3 linked regions of the Homo sapiens genome follow. The protein of the gene in region 1 interacts with the protein of each later gene in a pairwise test. Each region holds a gene or a part of one and is shown on either strand. Other genes may lie near its edges.

Evidence for each region.
Region 2: the proteins of SLC35E3 (region 1) and BNIP2 interact in binary tests that used the Homo sapiens proteins (3 or more experiments, as listed by UniProt).
Region 3: the proteins of SLC35E3 (region 1) and CSGALNACT2 interact in binary tests that used the Homo sapiens proteins (3 or more experiments, as listed by UniProt).

Annotation. Positions count from the first base shown.
Region 1 is NC_000012.12:68,777,035-68,780,788, reverse strand, and holds part of SLC35E3 (solute carrier family 35 member E3), read right to left. Parts: 3' UTR 1-3,754. UniProt on the Homo sapiens protein: Putative transporter.
Region 2 is NC_000015.10:59,675,712-59,679,465, forward strand, and holds part of BNIP2 (BCL2/adenovirus E1B 19 kDa protein-interacting protein 2), read right to left. Parts: intron 2,377-3,754; coding exon 2,200-2,376; intron 1-2,199.
Region 3 is NC_000010.11:43,155,311-43,159,064, forward strand, and holds part of CSGALNACT2 (chondroitin sulfate N-acetylgalactosaminyltransferase 2), read left to right. Parts: coding exon 1-500; intron 501-3,404; coding exon 3,405-3,621; intron 3,622-3,754. UniProt on the Homo sapiens protein: Transfers 1,4-N-acetylgalactosamine (GalNAc) from UDP-GalNAc to the non-reducing end of glucuronic acid (GlcUA). Required for addition of the first GalNAc to the core tetrasaccharide linker and for elongation of chondroitin chains.

The sequences.
Region 1 (3,754 bases):
GACTAGCTGGGCGCGGTGGCTCATGCCTATAATCCCAACACTGGGAGGCCGAGGCGGGCAGATCACCTGAGGTCAGGAGTTCGAGACCAGCCTGACCATCATGGAGAAGCCCTGTCTCTACTAAAAATACAAAATTAGCCGGGCATAGTGGTGCATGCCTATAATCCCAGCTACTTGGGTGGCTGAGGCAGGAGAATCGCTTGAACCCAGGAGGCGGAGGTTGCGGTGAGTCCAGATCATGCCATTGCACTCCAGCCTGGGCAACAAGAGTGAAACTCTGTCTCCAAAAAAAAAAAAAAAAAAAAAAGTGTGACTAGGCCAGGCAGGACGGCTCACGCCTGTAATCCCAGCACTTTGAGAGGCCAAGGTGGGCAGATCTCTTGAGCTCAAGGTTTCAAGACTAGACAGGGCAACATGGTGAAACCCCATCTCTACAAACAAAATATAAAAAAATTAGCCAGGTGTGGTGGTGCATGCCTGTAGTCCCAGCTACTTGGGAGGCTGAGGCGGGAGTATCACTTGAGGCTGGGAGGTCGAGGCTGCAGTGAGCCATGTTTGTGCCCCTGCACTCCAGCCTGGGTGACAAAGTAAGACCCTGTCTCAAAAAAATACAAAATAAATTAAAAAGTGTGATTTTAGAAATTGTTAAGATTTAAAAATAAAAATTTTGAGCAAATTTAAATAAAAATATAACTGGTTTGGGATAACCAGATATCCTGCATTTTAGAAATAATGTTAGAAACTGGGGCCAGAGAAGTGGCTTAAAATGTCCCTCTTCATCCCTCCCTCTATGCTTCACAGCATAACCCATATTTATCCACTTATTTTTAATTTAATTTAATTTTACTTTTAGAGTCAGGGTCTCACTTTGTTGCCCAGGCTGGAGTGCAGTGGCACAGTCATGGCTCACTATAACCTCAAACTCCTGGGCTCAGGCAATCCTCTGCCTCATCTTCCCAAGTAGCTGGGACTACAGGTGTCTACCACCATGCCCGGCTAATTTTATAAAATTTTTTATAGAGACGGGGGTCTTGCTGTGTTGCTCAGGTCTTGAACTCCTGGCCTCAAGTGCACCTCCTGCCTTGGCCTCCCAAAACACTGGGATTACAGATGCAGGCCACTGTACCTGGCCCCCATATTTATTAATCACATTTTATTCATTCATTCATTTAACTTTCCTGTGAAGTTTTGCAAATGGCTTCCTCAATTCCCCCTTGTTAAGCTTTTTTTCCTTCTCAAACCATGCTTATATCCTTTCTGGTTCCAGCCACATATTTTGGGTCAGACAGTCCTAGCACTGTACTTTTAATATCACCTGGAGTGACTTCAGAGACTTCTTTGAAGCCACAAGACCATCTGGTTCAATACCAATATTTTGAAATCTAATGACTCACTATTCTAGAACATTCTCAACATTAAGTTTCTTAAAGATGGCTTAAATACTTTTTAAATTTAAATAAATGTACAGAAAACAAAAATCTTTTCATTTAAAACCTACCAAATATAGCCACACATGGTAGGGCATACCTATAGTCCCAGTTACTCAGGAGGCTGAGGCAGGAGGATTACTTGAGCCAAGGAGTTCAGGGCTGCAGTGCACTATGATTGTGCCTGCAAAAAGGCACTGCACTCCAGCGTCGGCCACAGAGAAAGACCTAGTTTTTTGTTTTTGTTTTTGTTTTTGAGACAGAGTCTTGTTCTGTCGCCCAGGCTGGAATGCAGTCTGGAGTGCAGTGGCTCATTGCAACCTCCACCTCCTGGGTTCAAGCAATTCTCCTGCCTCAGCCTCCTGAGTAGCTGGGATTACAGGGGCACACCACCACGCCCAACTAACTTTTGTATTTTTAGTAGAGATGGAGTTTCGCCATGTTGGCCAGGTTGGTCTCAAACTCCTGGGCTCAAGTGATTCACCTACCTTGGCCTCCCAAAGTGCTGGGATTACAGGCGTGAGCCACTGCATCCAGCCATAAGACTCAGTTTCTTTTCTTTTTTTTTTTTGGAGATGGAGTTTTGCTCTTTTGTCCAGGCTGGAGTGAAGTGGTGCGACCATGGTTCACTGCAACCTCTACCCTCCCGGTTCAAGCAATTCTCCTGCCTCAGCCTCCCAAGTAGCTGGGATTATAGGCACCCACTACTACGCCCAGCTAATTTTTGTATTTTTAGTAGAGACGAGGTTTCGCCATGTTGGCTAGGCTGGTCTCAAACTCCTGACCTCAGGTGATCCACCCGCTTCGGCCTTGCAAAGTGCTGAGATTACAGGCATGAGTCACCACGCCTGGCCGGCAAGACCCTGTTTCTAAAAAACAAAATAAAAAATAAATCTTCCAACTATTTATAATATGATCTCTGTTCATCTTTACTGTTATAAACATTCCTCAGGTACTTGAAAGGAGTGTGTGTTCTAGGCTTGTTGAGTACAGATAACCTATTAGACAAGGTTACTAACTTCCCTGCTGCCTGCTCTATCACCTCTATTAGAAGTATTTAAAATCTCAATTTTCCTTTTAATTTTCATGCTGTTTTCTGGGTTGTTCATGATTGCTATGTTTGTGGTGGATTGTTCTTTAAAAAAAAAAATCTTGATCCTATTAACACTTTTTGCCTCAAATTCTATTTTGTCTGCTATTGATATTACTACCCAAAATCCCCGCACCCCGCCCTTTTTTTTGAGACAGGATCTCACTCTGTCACTCAAGCTGGAGTGCAGTTCACCATCACGGTGGCTCATTGCAGCCTCGACCTCCCTGGGCTTGGGTGATCCTCCCACCTCAGCCTCCCGAGTAGCTGGGATCACAGGCACATACCACCATACCTGGCTAATTTTTGTACTTTTTATAGAGACGGGGATTCACCATGTTGGCCAGGCTGGTCTTAAACTCCTGATCTCAAGTGATCCGCCCACCTTGGCCTCCCAAAGTGCTGGGATTATAGGCATGAGCCACCACACCCAGCCGGCAGCAAACTGTTTATGGACTGGTACTGGGGCCCAGACCCTACCTTGAGTGGTACTGGGCTAGAGGACTTATTAATTGCATGATCTAGGAGTAGTTCATAAATTCTGTGATGGTCATTCTTTGGGTGAACTCCATTTCTAGCAGATTCTAGATAAGCAGCATGACTTCCTCTGATTCTCTGACACCTGAGGGTGGGGAAATTCAGACTGTCCCACTTGGGTTGTGCGTCTTCACGCTGGGGAAGAGGGTGAGGCCAAAGTTGTGTTGGGAGATAAATAATGAAATTCAAGAACTCCATGGTAACAGCCCTTGTCTTTCCTCTCTGGGGCCACACAGTGCAGTGTGGGGAGAGGAGTGGACAGAAGGAATGTCAGCATTTCCTTGGCAAAATCTCTTGCGTTTCAGAACAGCAGTGAGATTTTGGAGGTATGAGAGAGTCACAGGTGTGACATTCCTGTGAGGAATGCTATTTGAGTACAAGCAGTGGATGTCCTCATGATGTTATGATTTCAGAAGAATAGCACTGTGCTTGGCTGAAAAGTTCTGCATTCAATAACTCCATGCCAATAAGCAGCCATTTCCTCCCAGCACACAGTTGCTCACCAATGTCCATGGTCCTATGGCACTGGGAGGCCTCTGATGCAGCTGTCTCCCACTATGGTCTTAGGAAATTCCTGGAACGTTATTAGAGTGAGTTTTTCCTAGATCTGCTTACTGAATACCTGTTGAACTTTCACACTGATGGCCAGTTCCAAGACTTAAGCATGACCTTGCGACCATTGGTGATAGTGCTTTCTTGA
Region 2 (3,754 bases), on another chromosome or scaffold:
ACTCACATGCACATAAAAAAAAACGGATAAGCAAATTATGGTTTATCCAAGCAATGGAAAACTACTCAGCAATAAGAAGGAATGTACTGTGGATACGTGCAACAACATGGATGAATCTCAAAAACTTCATGCTGAAAAGTAAACAAAAGAGTGCATAGGATGATTTTAGTTACTATATATGAAATTCTAGAAGAGGCAAAACTAATCAGGGGGTAGATATGACAGTGGCTACCGAAGCTGAGTATTCATTGCACAGGGGTACTAAATAATTCTTCTGGGACAATGAAAATGTTCTACATTTTTAGGGGTATGGGTTTTATATATATGGGTATATATGGTTATATAGGCATTTGTCAAAACTCATTGAACTGCACACTTAAGATCAGAGCATTTCACTGTTTATAAATTAGGGAGACTGTTCAGTCCCAGTTTTGGGTAGCCTAGAGACAGTTTAAAAAATTTTTTAATTTTGAGACAGGGTCAAAAACCAAAACAAAACAAAAAACTAGAGTGCAGTGGGATGATCACGGCCACTGAAGCCTCATCTTCCCAAGCTCAAGCTCTCTCTCCTCCCACCCCAGCCTCCTAAGTAGCTGGGACTACAGGCATATGCCACCACTCCTGGCTAATTTTATTTATTTTTTTATTTTTTTTATTTTTTTGTGGAGACGAGGTCTATGTTGCCCAAGCTGGTCCTGAACTCCTGGGCTCAAGTAATCCTCCTGCCTCAGCCTCCCAAATTGCTGGGATTACAAACCTGAGCCACCGTGCCCAACCTGACAGTTTTCACTACAAATTCTTTTGTACTTTTTCAACTTACTGTATGCATATAATCATTTTTAAATGGTACTTTTATTCTTTTACTTTAAACCTGTCATGTTTCTAAAATGAATGAGAAATGCTTATTATTCTTTCAAAATTACATAATATCTCTAGGCAGAGTTTCTAAAAGTATTTAGAATTCTGATATTGCATGAAACGGCTAGGGCAGGCGAGCGCAGTGGAGTGCCGCGCGGTGCGGTGCGGGCGGCAGAGTTGGGGTGTCATGGAGGATGAGCGGAGCTTTTCGGATATCTGCGGTGGCCGCCTGGCCCTGCAGCGCCGCTACTACTTCCCTTCCTGCCGGGAATTCTGCCTCAGCTGCCCTGGGCTCTCGCTGCGTTCGCTCACCGCTGTCACCTGCACGGTGTGGCTGGCAGCCTACGGACTCTTCACCCTCTGCGAGAACAGCATGATCCTCTCTGCTGCCATCTTCATCACCCTCTTAGGTCTGCTTGGTTATCTCCATTTTGTGAAGATTGATCAGGAGACTGTTAATCATTGATTCCCTTGGCATTCAGATGACTTCATCTTATGCTTCAGGCTAAGAAAGCACTACCTTCATAGAAATGGGCAAGGTCAAGGATATTGTCATCAATGAGGCTATTTACATGCAGAAGGTGATTTACTACCTCTGCATCTTATTGAAGGATCCAGTGGAACCACATGGGATATCCCAAGTAGTACCCGTCTTCCAGAGTGCCAAGCCCCGGCTGGACTGCTTGACTGAAGTATACAGGAGCTGCCAGGGGATCCTGGCACACCAGAAAGCCACATCAACAAGCCCATGAGCCCCAGCGTTCAGAAGGCCAGCATCGTCTTCCATGGGAGATGACTCTTAAGCCATAAGGGTTGGTTTTCCGTACTCCAAACCATCAGGTGGACACAGTCCTAGGAACCATTATGGATATAGTGCATCTCAGAGCCATAGAGCAGGTGACTGGAAATCTAACTCAGTATATTTCCACGTATTATAGTGTTTTCCTTGTAAGGTTTTGCCTACTTTACCAAAGGAGGGGAGACCTTAAGAATTTTGACACAGTATGTCAAAAGTAATGTCAGCAAAGAACATTGGGAAATTGCTAAGCATGTTCAGGTTTACTTTGTTGATGTTTGTGAAGCAAAACAATGGGAAACTGACATCAGATGTCTTGAGAAAGCTATATTTTCCATTAGTGCCCCTTGTGTAAAGTTACAAAAAAAACAAGCCCTCCAGGAACTGGTTAGCAGGAAGAAATGTCCTACAAAAGACGAGTCTCTCAACCTAGCGCCTGTGTTCTGTACAGGGCTTATTTACTCTTAATAAACAGATATCCTTCCAAAAAAAAAAGAATTCTGATATTGCATTAAACAATCTGAAAAATCCTCAGTAACTCTTACCCCCATGGCTGATAACTTTTTTATAGGGTTCAATTGCCTTCATATCAACCCTGTGGTCCTGTTCTCCAATCCTGAACATACGCCAGCGTCGTCCATCTTCTTTTTCCTCTGCTGCTGTGTATTCAGTAATTGAGCCTTTCCTAATTACTTCAGTAGTCTTGGGTTTTGGAAGATCATCTGTCAAAATACAAAGTTTTTGAATCACAAATTGTTACACAACAAAAATCAAATTATACGTTAACCACTTTACTACCTAGATTTTACAGAGAATTTTCATTATACCATCTGCACAATTTTCAATCTCTCTTCCATAAAGGAGGAAAAGGCTTATTCTTAACATGAGGCTGTTTTATGTCTTTGGAAATCATGGTTCTTTAACTTTTATTGCCCAATTTAGCAAAAACCACCTAATCATAGTGAAACGTGTATCCACAAGTTCAGAAAATATAATTTGTAGAGTCATCAAAATCTTAGTACACTGGCCTTACAATGCCTTTCCAGATTCAACTTGTGACAATATTCTCCCTGGCAGTTATGACTATAGGTTACTTCAAGTAGCTATCTGGGAGCCAATTTTGTTGTTGTTGAGCACATAAATTAACTGTAATACCAGATAGGAAGTGGTTAACTACTCAATGATCACTTCTCATTTGATCAGTTTTATAAAGCAGAAATGTATTTATAATACTTTGAAGTATACATGCAGAAGTCTATTTAAATTAGCATTAGCCAAAGCATAAGCACCAATGATTAAGTGTAATTTATGTTTTGAGATTGCAGTTTAGCTGATTTTCAATGTAGTAATAATTTTCAAAATTTCAGTATTATAGTCCTTACCAAAAGATGGGGGGAGGGGGAAACCTACTGCATGTTAGTTGTTTCCAAGACAAAGCTGTTAACGGAAAATATCCTTCCAGGAAATGACTACAGCAGCATTAAAGAAAGAAGAGACAAAACACATAGGCACAAAACTATTTCAGTATCTTTACAAAGTATTGCTTACTACTGGACTGTTTATTGAACCAGTAAAACAGGGAAGAAAAAAGAAACCAAAAATATAGCATATCACACTTTATTACAGTAAAATACTGAATGCTAAACACTACTATGAAAACAAAATCATTTTCAAGATGGAAAAAAATATGTAAAAATTATAACAACTATATATAAGATACTGTAGACAATTTTGTAATTAAAGAAAGCATGCAAAGTAAAACAGCACAATTCCTTTGAATTACAAGTAATAAGGAATACTAGGTTCGGGGGCTAAAAGTATACATTAATTTAAGTTGGTCATTTCACAAAGTAGAGCAATGTCAGGCAAACCTACTTAAAAAGTCACCCCAAATGCCTCCTTTCAGAACTCCCTTCCCACAAACTGTTAACTATATGTCTCTTCAAAAGTTTCTTACTTGATTGACTAAAAAAGAGCATGCCATAATTATCAAGAAATATTTTTGAAACAGCTATGAAAAAAACATGAGAGCAGTGGGCAAATAAGAGGGGAAAAAAGCCACTGGTGTACTCTATACACACTTTTTAAGTCCTTGAGAAT
Region 3 (3,754 bases), on another chromosome or scaffold:
AGAGTATTATCAAGCCCTCCTACAGGAACAAGAAGAACATTATCAGACCAGGGCAACCAGTCTGAAACGCCAAATTGCCCAACTAAAACAAGAATTACAAGAAATGAGTGAGAAGATGCGGTCACTGCAAGAAAGAAGGAATGTAGGGGCTAATGGCATAGGCTATCAGAGCAACAAAGAGCAAGCACCTAGTGATCTTTTAGAGTTTCTTCATTCCCAAATTGACAAAGCTGAAGTTAGCATAGGGGCCAAACTACCCAGTGAGTATGGGGTCATTCCCTTTGAAAGTTTTACCTTAATGAAAGTATTTCAATTGGAAATGGGTCTCACTCGCCATCCTGAAGAAAAGCCAGTTAGAAAAGACAAACGAGATGAATTGGTGGAAGTTATTGAAGCGGGCTTGGAGGTCATTAATAATCCTGATGAAGATGATGAACAAGAAGATGAGGAGGGTCCCCTTGGAGAGAAACTGATATTTAATGAAAATGACTTCGTAGAAGGTAATGTGAAAAATATGTTGGTCAATATTATGTTAGTAAGACAAATGCTAGTATTGTATGCTGGTATTGTATTGTAGTATTGTACTGTAGACAAATGCTAGTATTGTATTGTAGACAAATGTTAGTAATATAAGTCAGTCATTATCCACAGTATTAAAACACTGAAAGTTTTTGCACTTCATTGCACCAAGAATTTTAAGTGGCCTTCTGGAAAAAGGTATGAGATCATAATAAAAATGGAGAATAAGGACTAGGGAAATAGAATAAAACAGCTCTTGTTGCATGTGTATGATTTATATTCCTCACTTACCTGATCTTGGTGTTCTTTTTTATGTTTTTAAAAAATGTGTAAACTAAAACTCAAAACTTGAAAACCATTTGATAAAGGAAAGAAAAAATTAGTAGACTCTTAGCTATTTTTCGTATTGGAGGAAGGAGAAGCTCATGTCTGAACAAGGGGTTATACATAGTTTAAAAAGCACATTTGGCATTTGGAAAAGTAAGGAAATACCTGTTTTCCTAATACATATTTCAGAAAGGGTATGGAATTTTTATGTATCAAGATGGGATGTGACTCAGAGGTTGAAGAACACTGCTATAAAATTTAAGATATTGATTGATATTAACAGTAATAATTCTAGATCCCTACCCATCTCCTTTACACTCACTGCTAGACATTTAATTGCTGACTTAAACCATTTTAAAAATAAATGTTTCTTGAAAGTTCTCTTTGCTTGATTCTATAAACTGTGTTATCACAGTGGTCCCCAGCCTTTTTGGCACCAGGGACTGGTTTCATGGGTGACAATTTTTCCATGGGATGGTGAGGATGGTTTTGGGATGAAACTGTTCCACCTCAGATCATCTGGCATTAGTTAGATTCTCATAAAGAGCGTGCAGTGTAGATTCCTTGCATGTGCAGTTCACAACAGAGTTTGCTCTACTTTGAGAATCCAGTGCAGCCACTGATCCGACAGGAGGCGGAGCTCAGGCGGTAATGCTTGCCAGGCTCCCATCACTCACCTCTTGCTGTGCCGCCTAGTTCCCAACAAACAGGCCACGGACCAGTAGCGGTCTGTGGCCTGGGGGTTAGGGACCCCTCGTATAGCACATGTAGACTTTTTGACTCCAAATCATCATGGCCATCACTTGCTGCACTGTAGCATTATTATAATACACTGAGGCCCTTGGAGGCCATCAGGGAGGGCATTATGCTTTGCAGTGGCATTGCAGCTGCCTTTCCTTGTGGCCTCCTCTTTTTTCTGCTGTCACTTCCTGCCATTTTTGATGGATTATTTTTCTCAAAACTCTTCTGATTTTTCTGCAAGCTCAGCTTTTTGTCTTCTCACTGTATGTTTGTAGCTTATGGCAGAATTGGAAGCTGCGGAGGAAATAAGATAACTAAGTAACATGTGTAAAATGTCCTCACATCAGCTCTACCTAAAAAGAAAGGGAGCTGTGCCAGTTTTATATTCTGCAGCTCCTGCTTTTGTCTTATAACTCTCCTTGGATTCTGATACTTCAGGATTTTTCTCTAAATGGAACATATTCTGTTCCTCACTTTTCCTCTACTGTGCCACTGTCTGCCCACTGCAGGGAGAATAATTACTAATAATTAGTAATGACAACTAATTCCTATCCCTCTTCTAAACTTTAGCTCAGATATCACTTCTTCTGAGAAGTCATCTGCAACCTCAGGTCTAAGACAGCAGTACTTCTGTGTGCTCTTGTCACCTGTACATTCATACTGCTTGTCACAGTATGTGGCATTGCCCATTTCCTGGTTTGTGCTTCCTACTAAAGTGTAAGCCTCAGGAGGGTTGGGACCAAGTCTATTTTATTCACCATTTTATACCCAGATATTTACTGAGTGACTCACACATCTGTAGGTCTAACCTTCTTCTCTCTCCTGAGCGCCATACTTAAAAATCAGATTGCCACTGGGCGCAGTGGCTCACTCCTGTAATCCCAGCACTTTGGGAGGCCGAGGTGGGCAGATTATGAGGTCAAGAGATCAAGACCATCCTGGCCAACATAGTGAAACCCCGTCTCTACTAAAAATACAAAAATTAGCTGGGCGTGGTGACACACGCCTGTAGTCCCAGCTACTTGGGAGGCTGAGGCAGAAGAATTGCTTGAACCCGGGAGATGGAGGTTGCAGTGAGCCAAGATTGCACCACTGCACTCCAGCCTGGTGACAGAGTGAGACTCCGTCTAAAAAAAAAAAAAAAAAAAAAAATCAGATTGCCTCGTAGATGCGCATGCTTTTCTCTCAAAGGCATCTCAAATCACTGTGTTTAAATCTGTACCAATTTTTCTTTGACTTCACTCTAGTCAGTGATTTTATATGTATGTATGTATACACACATATATATATACAGATATATATATATATCACATAGCACTATATTGTTATTATTTGTCTATTTTTCTGTCTCCTTCACTAGACTGGCCCTGTCCTCAAAATTGAGACCATGTGGCACTCTTTGTATCACATAACTGACACGAAGGCACTCGATTTCTTTTAGTTGACCTAAACCAATAGAAATTTTGGCTCTTGGGTCTAGATTTTAATATTGCTAGAAGTAATTTCTTTATTTATCATGATTACCATATTGATAGGCTCTAGTATTTTTAAAAAGTCGTATGTAAAAAGGAACAATTGTCATTTGTAGTATATTTTATAGATTGAATAAAATAACAGAACAGTGAACTTTTTTTTTAACCTTTTCTTTTAAGCGAGTAATTGTTACTGTGCAGTGGGGATAAGTATTTTCACAAATAGGTAAAAATCCTGCAGGTCTAGTTTAATACCCTTTATGTTTAAGTGAGTAAAATCTGTCTTCCCATTGAATTTGTAAACTTTGACATGGAGACGTCTTTGTTCCTAACTCTTTCCTTTAGGTTATTATCGCACTGAGAGAGATAAGGGCACACAGTATGAACTCTTTTTTAAGAAAGCAGACCTTACGGAATATAGACATGTGACCCTCTTCCGCCCTTTTGGACCTCTCATGAAAGTGAAGAGTGAGATGATTGACATCACTAGATCAATTATTAATATCATTGTGCCACTTGCTGAAAGAACTGAAGCATTTGTACAATTTATGCAGAACTTCAGGTAACTGTCAGGGCTTAATGATTAAGCTACATTCTCCTAAAAAAAATCACGTTTTACTCAGATTTCCTTAATTTATCTTCACCGATTATAATTACTTAGAATAATTTTACAGGCTTTAGGGGAACTTTATTTT